2 linked regions of the Homo sapiens genome follow. The protein of the gene in region 2 purifies or fractionates together with the protein of the main gene of each other region. This does not show direct contact. Each region holds a gene or a part of one and is shown on either strand. Other genes may lie near its edges.

Region 1 (7,030 bases), on a different chromosome or scaffold from region 2:
TGGGGGTGGCTATAAAGGTTAATCCCAAACTTGTTGGCATTTCTGAAGAGAATGCTTTCAGTCAGCAAAATGTATCACATTGGTGAGCAAAAAGTCCAGGAAAATAACTAACATCAGGAGTGGTCCCTGGTCGTCTAGTGTTTTAGGAAAAATAGTAAAAACAAAAACAAAATTAAAAAAAAAAAAAAAAACCAGTAGCATCTAGAGCTCCTGCCTTTCACACATGGGAACTGAAAAGCATGGCAAGCACTGAAAATTGGACTCAATCACATTGGATTAAAAACAAATAACCTGTTTAAAAGTTGTAAAAATACTTTGGAAACCTGAGGATTTTTTCACTTACAAAAGTCACAGTTCATCCTTAGCGAAAACAAAAGAAAAACTGCCTATAATTATGCCATTCAGGAATAATTACAGTTAACATATGGGTACAAATCTATCAATCCATTTATTTTGTTATACCAAAAATAGGATCTAGTGTCTTCATTTATTTTAATGTCTTTTAGTACTCTTTTTTTTTTTATAATTAAAGGATAATAGTAACCTGTTTAACTGATTTCTATAGTTTATCAAATTCTTTAGTGCTACATTCTCAGATTATTTCTCAATAATCCTTGCAAAAGAAGTTAAAGAGGTTGGGAGATCTATCATGTCATACTGATTTTTGTAATGCATCTATGTATGTACATAGATACATATACATGTATATGTGCATGTATGTATTTACTTTCAGGATTTTAACCCTGTGTCTGAATAAGCTATGGCTTACAATAAATAGCTTGAAATAGACTCTGGGTCTCCTGTCTCCCAGTAGTCTGCCATTGTGAAACACCATTCCAACTTCACTCTCTCGTCCTGTCCCTTTGTGACTCAAGGTTGGTAAGAATTATGATAGGCTCCACAGCTGAGAAACAAAGTTAATTTGCCCTTGCAAAAACTGGACTTGTAGAACTGACATCATTAGCATCAATCCATTATAAAGTGAATTTCTTGCTTGAGAGAACAAACATGTGAACGTTCTTAATTTTTAGGTTCCCTAGATCAATATTATTGTACTACTTTACTGCTTAAAGGATCTTGCACTATTGATTAAAACCCAGGCTACCTGTGAAGCACATACCTCAGTCACACTAGCCACAGCAAGTTTTCTAGCAACATAGGGTGTCAGCATGCCAGCTAAGCTTTTCCTTATGGTTGGATTTTCTGGAGTTGCTTGTTCTTCAGCCAAATACCCTCCAAGGCGACTCAGAGCATGGACACTCAGTTTGGCAAGGCTGTTTGCTACCTCCTGTTATAAAAAAAATTAAGTTGTTAAAGTAGATCTGTTATCTTACATAGGTAATACTATAATTTTACAGAATCACACTATATGGAACATATTTAAGGAGTAAAAAGTCAACCAACAAAAGGGTACAAGAGTACCTACCACTGAGGTAAACATCAGAAAGTTTATGTGTTGGGGCTTGTTTTTTATTTATAAGAAGGACCAGGAGAATCTATGTACTAACTTATACCCAATGCAGTATATCTCACAGACAACTGGAAGAAGCACATTTGGTGGTAATGTGGGGAGTAGGGGATAGGTAGGCAGCCCTGCCTGCTAGAAGCACACATTTACAATATGAGCAATAAATGAGAGCACATAGAAGAGACAGAAAAATATCTATAAAAATCAGACAAGTACTCAAGTGTTTAGGGGAGCTAGCCTCAACTGCCTGATGGTAACATTATATTGTCCTGTGTTACACAACCATAATTTTGCCATCATAAAGTTGACTCTGAGTAATTAAGAAATTATTAAATTATGTCCAGTATATGCTATTGCAAATTCCCTTGCCTGGAATCCTTTAAGCATAAGCAATTACAACTAAAAGTTTTGTAAGTAAGTGATTAGGTTTAAAAAGCAAAAAACCTAATTTTCCTGAAAAACAATTTATCTCTGGGGACTCTGGATAGCAGCTTTGGTTTGGATTAGTTTAACACCAACCTAAGGTTTGGGTTCAAATTCAATATTAAAGCAATGTTAAAGTTACCTGCTGGTTTGTTTCTTCACTTTTCTGAATGCCACTCTCTTCTAGTGTGTAGTCATAATTAAACAGAAAACCAAGGAGATACCACAAAATTCCAGCCTGAAATAGGTGTGTCTGTAGCCAGAAATCCACAGCAAAAGAACTGACACATTCTACCCCAAGAGCAGCTACGCGGGGAATACTCTGAGAGAATAAAAATGAGAGCATTAGTTGTTACAGAGTTAAAAAAAAAAAAAAAAGCTCCCAAGAGGAACTGGTTGTGCATGTATGTCAAGCCAACCACGTTATTTTGTAAAATGTTTACCTCTTCTTACATTTTCAATTCCAATTTAAATCTGAATCCTACATCCTTTAAAGCCTAAAATTAAAAGTGACCTCATGACGAGATACCAGAATTACTACCTTTAAGGCTAATGTCAGAAGACTTGGGAATAGTTTCCTGTTTCACTTCTTGTATTTTTAATTTTTAAAAATAGTGACATGGCATCAATAGCAACTTACACGCTAGTGATCTTAAATGTAACGACATATTTTGTGCAGTTGTTAAAAGATTTATTTATGTCAGTTTTTTATTCTGTAATCAAATACTTCTAAGGACATTAAGTAGATATAGTAGAGGAGATATTTTCATCAATTCCCTCACTTCTTGATACTTTAGTACTAGATCAGCATCTCGATCCTGTTTTATTCAAGACAATTCTCACTCTGCCCAGTTATTTAAGACATTTCTCTCTCCCTCCCAGTCATCTATCTCATCTACCCACAGTCAACCTTCCTCAGCAGGTCTGGATTGGGAGGAAATAGTAAGTTCTCAGATCTCTAAAGCCTTTCCCACCAAGCAGTGCCGAACTCTCTAGTTTTCAGGTTTTACATGGCCCTGTTTTTTTTTCTTTTTTTTTTTTGAGACAGAGTCTCACTCTCTTGCCCAGTCTGGAGTGTAGTGGCACAGGCTACCTCTGAAGCATATATCTCAGTCACACTAGCCACAGAAACATAGGGTGTCAGCATGCCAGCTAAACTTTTCCTTATGGTTGAATTTTCTGGAGTTGCTTGTTCTTCAGCCAAATACTCAGCCTCCCGAATACCTAGGATTACAGGCGCATGCCATCATACCCAGCTAATTTTTGTATTTTTTTGTAGACAGGGTTCTGCAGTGTTGGCCAGGCTGGTCTTGAACTCCTGACCTCAAGTGATCTGCCAACCTCGGCTTGCCAAAGTGCTAGGATTACAGACGTGAGCCACCACACCGGGCTGGCCTTTTGCTTTTAAAAGACTTATTTATTACAGGCTTCTCTTTTCTCCCTGCCACTCATTCTAATGTTCAGATGGAACCCACTTCCCTTTAGATGTATCACTTTAGTCTTTTTCTTTGTAGGCCAGCCTAGAAGCAAAGCCTCCATTTACAGCAAGGCTTCTGTGAAAAATGCTTTTAGAAATCCAAATAATTTTACTTACAAATAACTTTGGGAAAACAATGTGCTTATACATTAGGAACTGGCTAGTTGACAAAAAGACACTTTGCTGTCTGTATCTAGAAAGCATTAAAGATTAACCCTACCTTGCCAAAATATAGTACCCGACAGAGATCCTTGATGATGCTAGGCATTTCCGTGATCTTCTCTCGGCATTCCTCAAACTGAGCAGCCACACTGTAGCATTTACTTATGTATCCACACACCTGCAGACAACACAACAGAGCAAAAAAACCAGTAGAGTCACATAGGCATTCCTTATTTAACACATAGAAATCAAACCAGCAGAAATTTGTGAATAATGCTTAATGGTATATACAATGTTCCAAAATTAAACAGAATGTCTTTACTAGATCACTAGTCTTTCTCATTAAGATTTCCTATAAATGCTGGGGTAGTTGGCAAACCACAGCTACTACAACCCATGGGCCAAACTGACCATGGTCTTTGTACTGCCAAAGAGCTAAGAATGGTTTTTAGATTTTTAAAGGGCTGTAAAAAAGTCACAAAAGAAAATGTAACAGAGACTGTATGAAGCCTGAAAGACTCATATATTTACTCCCTGGACCTTTATTTTAGAAGTTTGCTGGCCTCTGGATTAAGGTAATTTTGTATAGTTTATTAACATAGCAGAATATCACAATTCTGTTTACACAACGGACTTCAAAATAGAGGATGGAACTCAACAGCCAGTACTCGTTTTATATTCTGAATTTTGCTGGCATAAGCAAAAGGTCAAATAGAAAGACACGCTCTACAAAGCTCTTAATGAACTCCTGATGAATTTCCTATCTTACAACCTTAAATGTTAAGCCAATTAAAATACTAGAGATAGGAGAGTGAGGGATGGAAGATATGTGAAACAAGAATGGCATTAAGCTGGGTAATGGAAACATATGGGTTCAATAAACTATTCTCTAAGAAAGAAAACGTAAGCCAACAGATCACAAGTGCTTTAGTACAGTTTCTTACAGTGTGATACACAGACCAGCAGCATCAATGACACTTGGAAACTTGTTATAAAAACATACTCTCAGGCCACCACCCCAGACTCACTGAATCAGAAACTTGGGGTGGGGTGGAGCTCAGCAACCTACAGTTTAATGAGCCCTCCAGTTGATTCTCAGATATGTTAAAGTCTGAACCATTGAACTAGTGCAATTTTCTTGGAACCACAGGTTTTAGCCTCACCTGTACTGACATGTCACTTGGTTTACTAGCACGAGTCAAGACAGCCACACAGCGACTAAATGCCTCTTGTAACACCTGCAGAGGAAGAAGTCAGCTATTAACTCTCCATTTTGACTTCAAGTCTGAAAGGCCTTTTCTAGCAGTAATAAAATATAAATAACCCTTTAATGTTAAATATTTGATACATAAATGTTTGATCAACATTTGTTAATAAATAGTAAACAAAGGACTCCTAAAAGTTTCCTTTTAAGCATTTCTAATAAGCTACTTTGTAAACAATATTACCATTATCGGTTTTGAACCCAATACTTTCCAACTCACATTGTGAAATAAAGCTCCATTTCTACCTTTAATTTGGTATAAGAATATGGAAAATATTGTGTTATCTGCTGAAATAAATTAAAGAATCTGCATTTGTACTTGCTGAATTCTTCACTGCCAAGAGTCATATAATGTGTGTAAACTGGCTTAAAAAGCACAAAGGTCACTCCGTATTACCTCTAGTCCATTCTCTCTTCTGAGCTCTTCAGCATTGAGGGCTGAACAGTTGACAGTATGGAAAGCTAGCTCTGTAGCCGCAGGCAACAATGGTGATTCTTTTGAGAAAAGGAGGTCATCTGAAGTTTCCATTGTTATAGTCCGAATAAGCATGGGGTATCCTGCATATTTATAAGGCTGTAAATCTGAAATAACCAATGGTTAGTGTTAGAAAAACAAAACAAAATTGATTATGTTGTGGTTTCAATTTTGATACCATGTTCAAGAATATGTTGCCTTAAAAAAATAAAAATGGGGCCAGGCATGGTGGCTCATGCCTGTAATCCCAGCACTTTGGGAGGCCAAGGTGGGTGGATCACGAGGTCAGGAGATTGAGACCATCCTGGCTAACACAGTGAAACCCTTTCTCTACTAAAAACACAAAAAAGTTAGCCGGGTGTGGTGGCAGGCACCTGTAGTCCCAGCTACTCGGGAGGCTGAGGCAGGAGAAAGGTGTGAACCCGGGAGGTGGAGCTTGCAGTGAGTGGAGATGGCACCACTGCACTCCAGCCTGGGCGACAGGGCAAGCCTCCGTCTCAAAAAAAATAAAAATAAAATAAAATAAAACGTAAAAAAAAAGATAAAATATTTTATCTTAACATCTTAAATGCCTCCTAATGCCAGTTGATAAAAAAAGAAATTAAACCTACTATAAAATCCCTTGGATCCTTCCTTTCTAGTAAACTTGGTTGATTTTTCTAAAATGTTTCCACTAGAAAAATAACATTTTCTGGTAAATTAACTGCACTTGGTGTATAGTTTTGATCCTTTGCAGAATACCTACTTTCTATGCTGATCTTTGTAACTTTTCACCTCATCACAGAACGCAAGGTACAGCAAATGCACCAGAAATTCTATTAATATCAATTATATGCACATCTTTATAAAGAAAAAAGACTGAGAAGACATTTACATGACACTGAATATTTTATATTAAGTTTTCTGGATAACAAGTGCCCTTGTTTATCTATTTTACCAGTATCTATTTTACCAGTTATCTTAAAGATAACTGGTATCTATTTTACCAGTTATCTTAAAGTTTTACCAGTATTTTCTTAAATTTGAAAATAATACAATTTCTTACTAGAAGTACAAAACAGAAAGTTAACTTTTAAACTACATTTAGTTAATTCCATGTTTTAATAACCAAATTTAAAAGTGAAAGCTAGTAAACCTACATGCCTAATTACTCTGTTCTTTCCATCTTCTTTTTTCAATCTAACCTATTAGGCAAAGAGATGCAAATTAATTGGCTGTGACTTTAAAAGTATCTCTATAATTCCAATTGAAATCAGCATAAATCTTTTTGACTTTTGAGGCTGACCAATAATCTGCCTTAAAACTCATTTCTAAACTGGCTTTTAAAAAAAAGGCCCCCTGGAACAGGTCCTAATTTTCCTTTAAAAAAAAAAAAAGTGACACATACGTAATAAGAAAGAACAGTGAATAACTAAGTCCTGTCAGATCAGGACCTCCACCTCAGAGCTTCTTGGGTATAAACCCCTCTTGGGAAAAGTTAAAGATGACCTTGATAACAGAGAAACCAGGATGGGCCATAACTGTATCTTGTGGCTAATAATTTAGTTATCAGCATTAAAAGACAACCAAGGGTTTTGAAAAAGGTTTCCAAACTCATTCTGATTAGTAAAAGCCATATATCTAAAATGTATTATAAACGTATTCTGTTAAACTCATGTAAAAGTAAATCAACTAATCACTGCTCTCTTTAATAATCCAACTGCTAGATCCTCAGGTTGTCCCCTCCAATACTTAAACTGCAACACCATCTCTTGTCTTTAG
Region 2 (7,030 bases):
GGTGGATCCATGGGCACTGAGAGCTCTCCAGGAAAAAGACAAGTCTCAGCAAGATGTGGTAAACACACAACCCCCTAACCTATAAAGCTTGAGGATTATTCTAGAAAACCCAGTGCTGGAGACACTGGCAAGGTACTTCCCACATCAGCTACAGAACTTCATGCCACTCCTTAGCTATGTTGAACCAACAATAAATTCTTTCCAGGTTATACCAGTGATTAGTAGAGTAGGGAACTTTGAGATCTACTGGAAGGTAAATTCCATGTGAGCAGGAATTTTTGCATGTTTTGTTCACTGATTAAATCAATGCCTGGCACATAGTAGACGTCCAGATAATTTGTTGAATGTTTACAGGAACCAGATTGGACCATGGATATCTCTGCCTGCAAAACCTCTTGTGCTTTCAAGTTGAAGGTAACGGAAAAGTATCAGAGTAACTTTAAAAGGTATGATCCCTGAATGACACTTGAGTAACATCTATAATGAGTACATTAAAGTATCTGATTTTTTTTCCTTTTCTAATACGGTCTGTACAATCATACATTAATATATTAACAACAGTACATCAATTCAGACTCTTAAAACTTTTTTTTAAATTAATGGCAACTCTTTTTTTTTTTTTTGAGCCGAGTCTCGCTCTGTCACCAGGATGGAATGCAATGGCATGATCTCAGCTCACTGCAATCTCCGCCTCCCGGCTTCAAGCGATTCTCCTGCCTCAGCCTCCCGAGTAGCTGGGACTACAGGCGCACGCTGCCACGCCCGGCTAATTGTTTGTATTTTTAGTAAAGATGGGGTTTCACCATGTTGCACAGTCTGGTGTCAAACTCCTGAGCTCAGGCAATCTGCCCTCCTTGGCCTCCCAAAGTGCTGGGATTACAGGCATGAGCCACCACGCCCCACCTGGCAACTCTCTTCTATACCCTTTAGGACAGTGTATTTCAAATCTCTCAGAATTAAACCCTGCCCAACTATGTATTAGATAAATCCTCAAAGATGGAAATATATAGAATGTTAATAACACCAACACAATTAGCATAATTTTCCAAAGACATGAAGGAAGATGACTTTTCTACATTTTTAAAAGCCACTTTTAAAGTATACCATAGAGAAAAGTGCACAAATCATAAGTGTACACAGCCCTGTAACTAGCACTCAAGTCAATTTCTCTATACTTTTTTTTTTTTTCTTTTGAGACAAGGTCTCATTCTGTTGCCCAGGATGAAATGCAGTGCCATCATCTCAGCTCACTACAACCTGCCTCCCAGGCTCAAGCAATCCTCCTGCCTCAGCCTCACAAGTAGCTGGACTACAGGCACATGCCACCACGCCTGGCTAATTTTTGTATTTTTAGTAGAGATAAGGTTTCACCATGTTGCCCAGGCTGGTCTCAAACCCCTGAGCTCAAGCTATCCACCTGCCTTGGCCTCCCAAAGTACTGGGATTACAGGCATGAGCCAATACACCTGGCCAATTTCTCTATATTCTAGTAATGGTGAAACACACATACAAATGAGCAATTTAGGCGAAAATGTTATGGTACTATAAAAAGGCAAAAGTCCAGATTGTCTTCAGAAAAAGAACATTAAGGAATACTGAATTTAGGCCAGGTGAGGTGGCTCACACCTGTAATTCCAGCACTTGGGAGGTGGAGACAGGTGGATCACCCTAGGTCAGGAGTTCGAGACCAGCCTGGCCATCATGGCAAAACCCCGTCTCTACTAAAAATACAAAAATTAGCTGGGCATGGTGGCACGTGCCTGTAATCCCAGCTACTTGAGAAACTGAGGCATGAGAATCGCTTGAGCCCGAGGTGGAGGTTGCAGTGAGCCAAGATTGTGCCACTGCACTCCAGCGTGGGTGACAGAGCAAGACTCCTTTAAAAAAAAAAAGTAAAACAGAAAATCTGAAGTTAAGCACTATTAAATGTGGGATCCTAGTTCTGAAGCTGAATGTCAAATATCCCCAAATTCTAGGTTCAGTGGTAGTTTTGGAAACTCTAAATTAATCCAGACTCAGTCTTAAGTTGTCAAAAATTCAAACAAGATCCCTTTTCAAACTGCTATTTCCAGGATTCAGAGTTGTCACGTCTCCCCAAAAGCACGGATTTTAAATTGTGAACCAAATCATGTGGCTCATGCCTGTAATCCCAGCACTTTGGGAGGCCGAGGCAGGTGGATCACATGAGGTCTGGAGTTCAAGACCAGCTGACCAATGTGGTGAAACCCTATCTCTACTAAAAATACAAAAAATTAGAGGGGCGTGGTGGTGCATGCCTGTAAACCCAGCTACTTGGGAGGCTGAGGTAGCAGAATTGCTTGAACCTGGGAGGCGGAGTTCGCAGTGAGCCAGTATTGCGCCATTGCACTCCAGCCTGGGCAAAAAGAGCAAAACTCCGTCTCAAAAAAAAAAAAAAGAAAAGAAAGCTCGTTAAGAACAAGTCATGCCACACCAACTTCATTTCCTTTTCTGGGAAGGTTACCAAACTGGTGGATTTTATTTTCTCCTTTATTATTTCCTCTTCAGGGAATGCAGAGAGAAAGAATCCTGAAAATCTTGAGCACATCCTTGTGTGGGTGGGCAGATTCCCAAGGGGCTGGATTACGGCACCCAATTAGCACAAAAGAATGAACCATTTATGTCCACCTGGTGGGAGGTCTCCACTGGTAAACACAGACAAAGTGGAGGAGACACGCTTATCCAGATTTGCAGCTGACCAAACACACTGGAAAGGATAACTAACCCATTGGCTAGGGCCATCAACACTAAGCAAGATCTCTGTAATGTCAGAATGATGAGTTTGAAACAACCTAGTGGTTTTAACAGCCCCCATTTACTGGCTCGCAATCTGAGACAAATTCCTTATCTCCTCTAAGTGCACTCAAATGCGGGAATAATCCTGACCTCTGCACTGGGATAAGAAAAAGTCTTAAAGAGCTGGGCGCAGTGGTTCACGCCTGTGATCCCAGCACTTTGGGAGGCCGAGGCGGGTGGATCACGAGGTCAAGAGATCAAGACCATCCTGGTCAACATAGTGAAACCCTGTCTCTACTAAAAAAATACAAAAATTAGCTGGGCTTGGTGGCGCGCGCCTGTAGCCCCAGCTACTCAGGAGGCTGAGGCAGGAGAATCGCTTGAATCCAGGAGGAGGAGGTTGCAGTGAGCTGAGGTCACGCCACTGCACTCCAGCCTGGCGACGGAGCGAGACTCCGGCTCAAAAAAAAAAGAAAGAAAAAAACCACAAGAAAAAGTCTTCAAGAAAATGGGCAACTGCATTCATCATAAGGTGGTTATCCTGAAAGTAAGAAATTTCAGTGCTTAGGCACTTAGGTATATTGTATCCATTTTCAAATACAGCTGACCCTCCACATCCATGGGTTTTAAATTCTGATTCAACCAACCTCAGACAGAAAATATTCAGGGGAAAAAAAAATTAAAAATTACAGGGCAGGTACAGTGGCTCACACCTGTAATCCCAACACTCTAGGAAGCTGAAGCAGGAAGATCACTTGAACCCAGGAGTCCAAGACTGACCACAGCAACATAGTAAGACCCCATCTCCACAAAAAATTTTTCTTAAAATTAGCCAGGCATGGTGGCACATCCCTGTAAGTTCCAGCTACTCAAGAGACTGAGATGGGAGGATCTCTTGAGCAGAGGAAGTTGAGGCTGGAGTGATCATGCCACTATACTCCAGCCTGAGTAACAGTAATACCCTGTCTAAAAAAATAATAAACAATAAAACAAAAAATAGATTTTTAAAACTACAATATCACAATTCTACATAGTATTTACATTGTATACGGTATTATAACTAGAGATTATTTAAAGTCTACAAGAGGTCTGGGTGCAGTGGCTCACACCTGTAATTCCAGCTCTTTGGGAGCCCAAGACGGGCGGATCACTTGAGGTCAGGAGTTCGAGACCAGCCTGGCCAACATGGTGAAACCCTGTCTCTACTAAAAATACAAAAATTAACTGGGATTGTGCCGGGTGCCTGTAATCCCAGCTACTCAGGAGGCTGAGGCAGGAGAATCGCTTGAGCCCAGGAGGCAGAGTTTGCAGTGGGCCAAAATTGCATCACTGCACTCCAGCCTAGATGATGGAGTGAGATTCTGTCTCAAAAAAACAATTAAAAAAAAAAGTATACAAGAGCATTTAGGCCATATGCAAATACAAAGCTATTTTATAACAAGGACTTCAGCATCCTCAGATTTTAGTATCATGGGGGTCCTGGAAGCAACCTCTCACAGATACTGAAGGGTGACTATATTGGTGGCATAAATGAGTCATTTTTAAAATGTAAACTGATTTTTTTTTTTTTTGAGACAGGAGTCTTGCTCTGTCATCCAGCCTGGAATGCAATGGCGTGATCTCGGCTCAATGCAACCTCCACCTCCCAGGTTCAAGCAATTCTCCCACCTCAGCCTCCTGAGTAGCTGAGATTACTGGCACATGCCACCAGGCCAGGCTAATTTTTGCATTTTTAGTAGAAACGGGGTTTCACCATGTTAACCAAGCTGGTGTCAAACTCCTGACCTCAGGTGATCCACCCACCTCAGCCTCCCAAAGTGCTGGGATTACAGGCATGAGCCACCATGCCCAGCCATAAACTGAATTTTTAAAAAGTCAATTCCATAGTACAGTATAGAGGAGAACTAATTTAATAATCGTTCTTTTTTTTTTTTGAGACGGAGTCTCGCTCTGTCGCCCAGGCTGGAGTGCAGTGGCGGGATCTCGGCTCACTGCAAGCTCCGCCTCCCGGGTTCACGCCATTCTCCTGCCTCAGCCTCCCAAGTAGCTGGGACTACAGGCGCCCGCCACTACGCCCGGCTAATTTTTTGTATTTTTAGTAGAGACGGGGTTTCACCGTTTTAGCCGGGATGGTCTCGATCTCCTGACCTCGTGATCCGCCCGCCTCGGCCTCCCAAAGTGGTTCATTTTTAAAGGTGCATTTCTTTGGTAAGAATTTCAACAAAAGCTAACAACCTATCCCAAACTTTATTCACAGAAATAGTGCTCATATCTAGGAATAATATGCTATTAAAAAGAACAAACAAAACCTGATTTGTACATCACATTCTAAACTATGTGCCTCTCCAGGAGGGTGACTAAGATCATTAAAGATCTAGAAAAGCTGGCCAGGCACCGTGGCTCACGCCTGTAATCCCAGCACTTTGGGAGGACGAGGCGGGTGGATCACAAGGAGATCGAGACCATCTTGGCCAACACGGTGAAACCTCGTCTCTACTAAAAATACAAAAATTAGTTGGGCATGGTGGTGTGTGCTTGTAATCCCAGCTACTTGGGAGGCTGAGGCAGGAGAATTGCTTGAACCCAGGAGGCAGAGGTTGCAGTGAGCCAAGATTGTGCCACCGCACTCCAGCCTGGCGACACAGTGAGACTCTGGCTCAAAAAAAAAAAAAAAAAAAAATCTAGAAAAACCATGTCTTAAGACAAATGATTGGAAAAACAGGAAATGTTTGGCCTGGAGAACTTAACGTCAGAAGAATCGCTTTAGCAGCCCTGAAATATATGAAGAGCTGTCTTTGTTATCCTAGAAATGGTTAAAAAAAAAAAATTCCAAAAACCACAGGCTGATTTCATCTCAATGTTAGGAAGCCTCTCCCTCACCCTGACCCCACACCCTCTCCGAAAATAACTAACAACAATTTGAGCTCATGCAATTTATGCAAAGCTTAAGTTATTTGATATTTTTTTGGAGACCAGACTGGAAGACTTCTAAGGTCTCTTTCAAAGTGAATCTGTGACTGTGCTTTAAGGCCAGCAGCCAAAGGTGAAAGAGGACCAATGCCCAGCACAGCAACATTAACAATCTGTACATGTGTTGAGTGAAGGAAAAAATGAGAATGAAGAGGCCACTTATCACCTACAGGAACTTATGTCAGGAGAGTGACAAGGACAGAAGTCAGACAGCTAAATTAGAGTCGGGGGCAAAAGGGAAGCAGCAGATAGATCCTTGTCAAATATGTTAATCTGAAAACCAGCATCTTGGGCTAATGATAAAATATAAAGTGTTCTCCCCTTGACAATGTTTACTGACCAAAAGCTGTCTTAATGGAAAACTAAGCTAAGATGAAAAAAACAGGCTGAGGCTGGGCAAGGTGGCTCACACTTGTAATCCCAGTACTTTGGGAAGCCAAGGCAGAGGGATTGTTTGAGCCCAGAACTTCAAGATCAGGCTGGGCAACAGAGTAAGACTCCGTTATCTATCTTAAAAAAAAAAAAAAAAAAAAAGTATAAAAAAAGAAAAAATAGTCTGAAAATGCTTTGGCCTCAAATTATTCTTTAAAGAAAACTGTCAATAAGTGAAAAATAAACTTTATTGTATTTAAGAGAAGTCTGTTCCTTTTAGAGCACATGCAGTAACTGTCAATTTGCCTTTAAAAAGTTTAAGTTGTGGCCGGGCGCGGTGGCTCACGCCTGTAATCCCAGCACTTTGGGGGGCCGAGACGGGAGGATCACGAGGTCAGGAGATCGAGACCATCCCCGCTAACACAGTGAAACCCCGCCTCTATTAAAAATACAAAAAATTAGCTGGGCATGGTGGCAGGCGCCTGTAGTCCCAACTACTCGGGAGGCCGAGGCAGGAGAATGGTGTGAACCCGGGAGGCGGAGCTTGCAGTAAGCCAAGATCGTGCCACTGCACTCCAGCCTGGGAGACAGCGAGACTCTGTCTCAAAAAAAAAAAAAAAAGTTTAAGTTGTGCCTTATATTAAATGATTTAGACTACAGGCACATCATTAGTAAATTGTCTAAAAATTTGAAGTTAGGCAGATTTTGTAATAGACTCTGTGTCAGAAATTGTATTTTTAATAAATCTTCCAGGTGATTTTTAAACACATCACATATTTTGAGAATTGCTGTCTACAATAAAGGTGTCAATCCAAAAAGGACATTGATCTTGCAATTTCCTGTCTAGAAAGCCCAGATCTTTTACACAACAGACACCTGCTGTTCAGGTCTCAGCTCAGACGTCACCTTCTGGGAGATGCCCTCCCTGTCCCTC

What was found. Proteins that work in one complex are often made in the same cells at the same time.
Region 1: the proteins of OCLN (region 2) and DNAJC13 purify together in Homo sapiens (affinity purification with mass spectrometry; 2 studies listed by BioGRID and IntAct, with this or other methods). This does not show direct contact.

What each region holds. Positions count from the first base shown.
Region 1 is NC_000003.12:132,497,472-132,504,501, reverse strand, and holds part of DNAJC13 (dnaJ homolog subfamily C member 13), read right to left. Parts: intron 5,377-7,030; coding exon 5,192-5,376; intron 4,769-5,191; coding exon 4,694-4,768; intron 3,709-4,693; coding exon 3,589-3,708; intron 2,214-3,588; coding exon 2,034-2,213; intron 1,289-2,033; coding exon 1,121-1,288; intron 1-1,120.
Region 2 is NC_000005.10:69,495,790-69,502,819, reverse strand, and holds part of OCLN (occludin), read right to left. Parts: intron 1-7,030. UniProt on the Homo sapiens protein: May play a role in the formation and regulation of the tight junction (TJ) paracellular permeability barrier.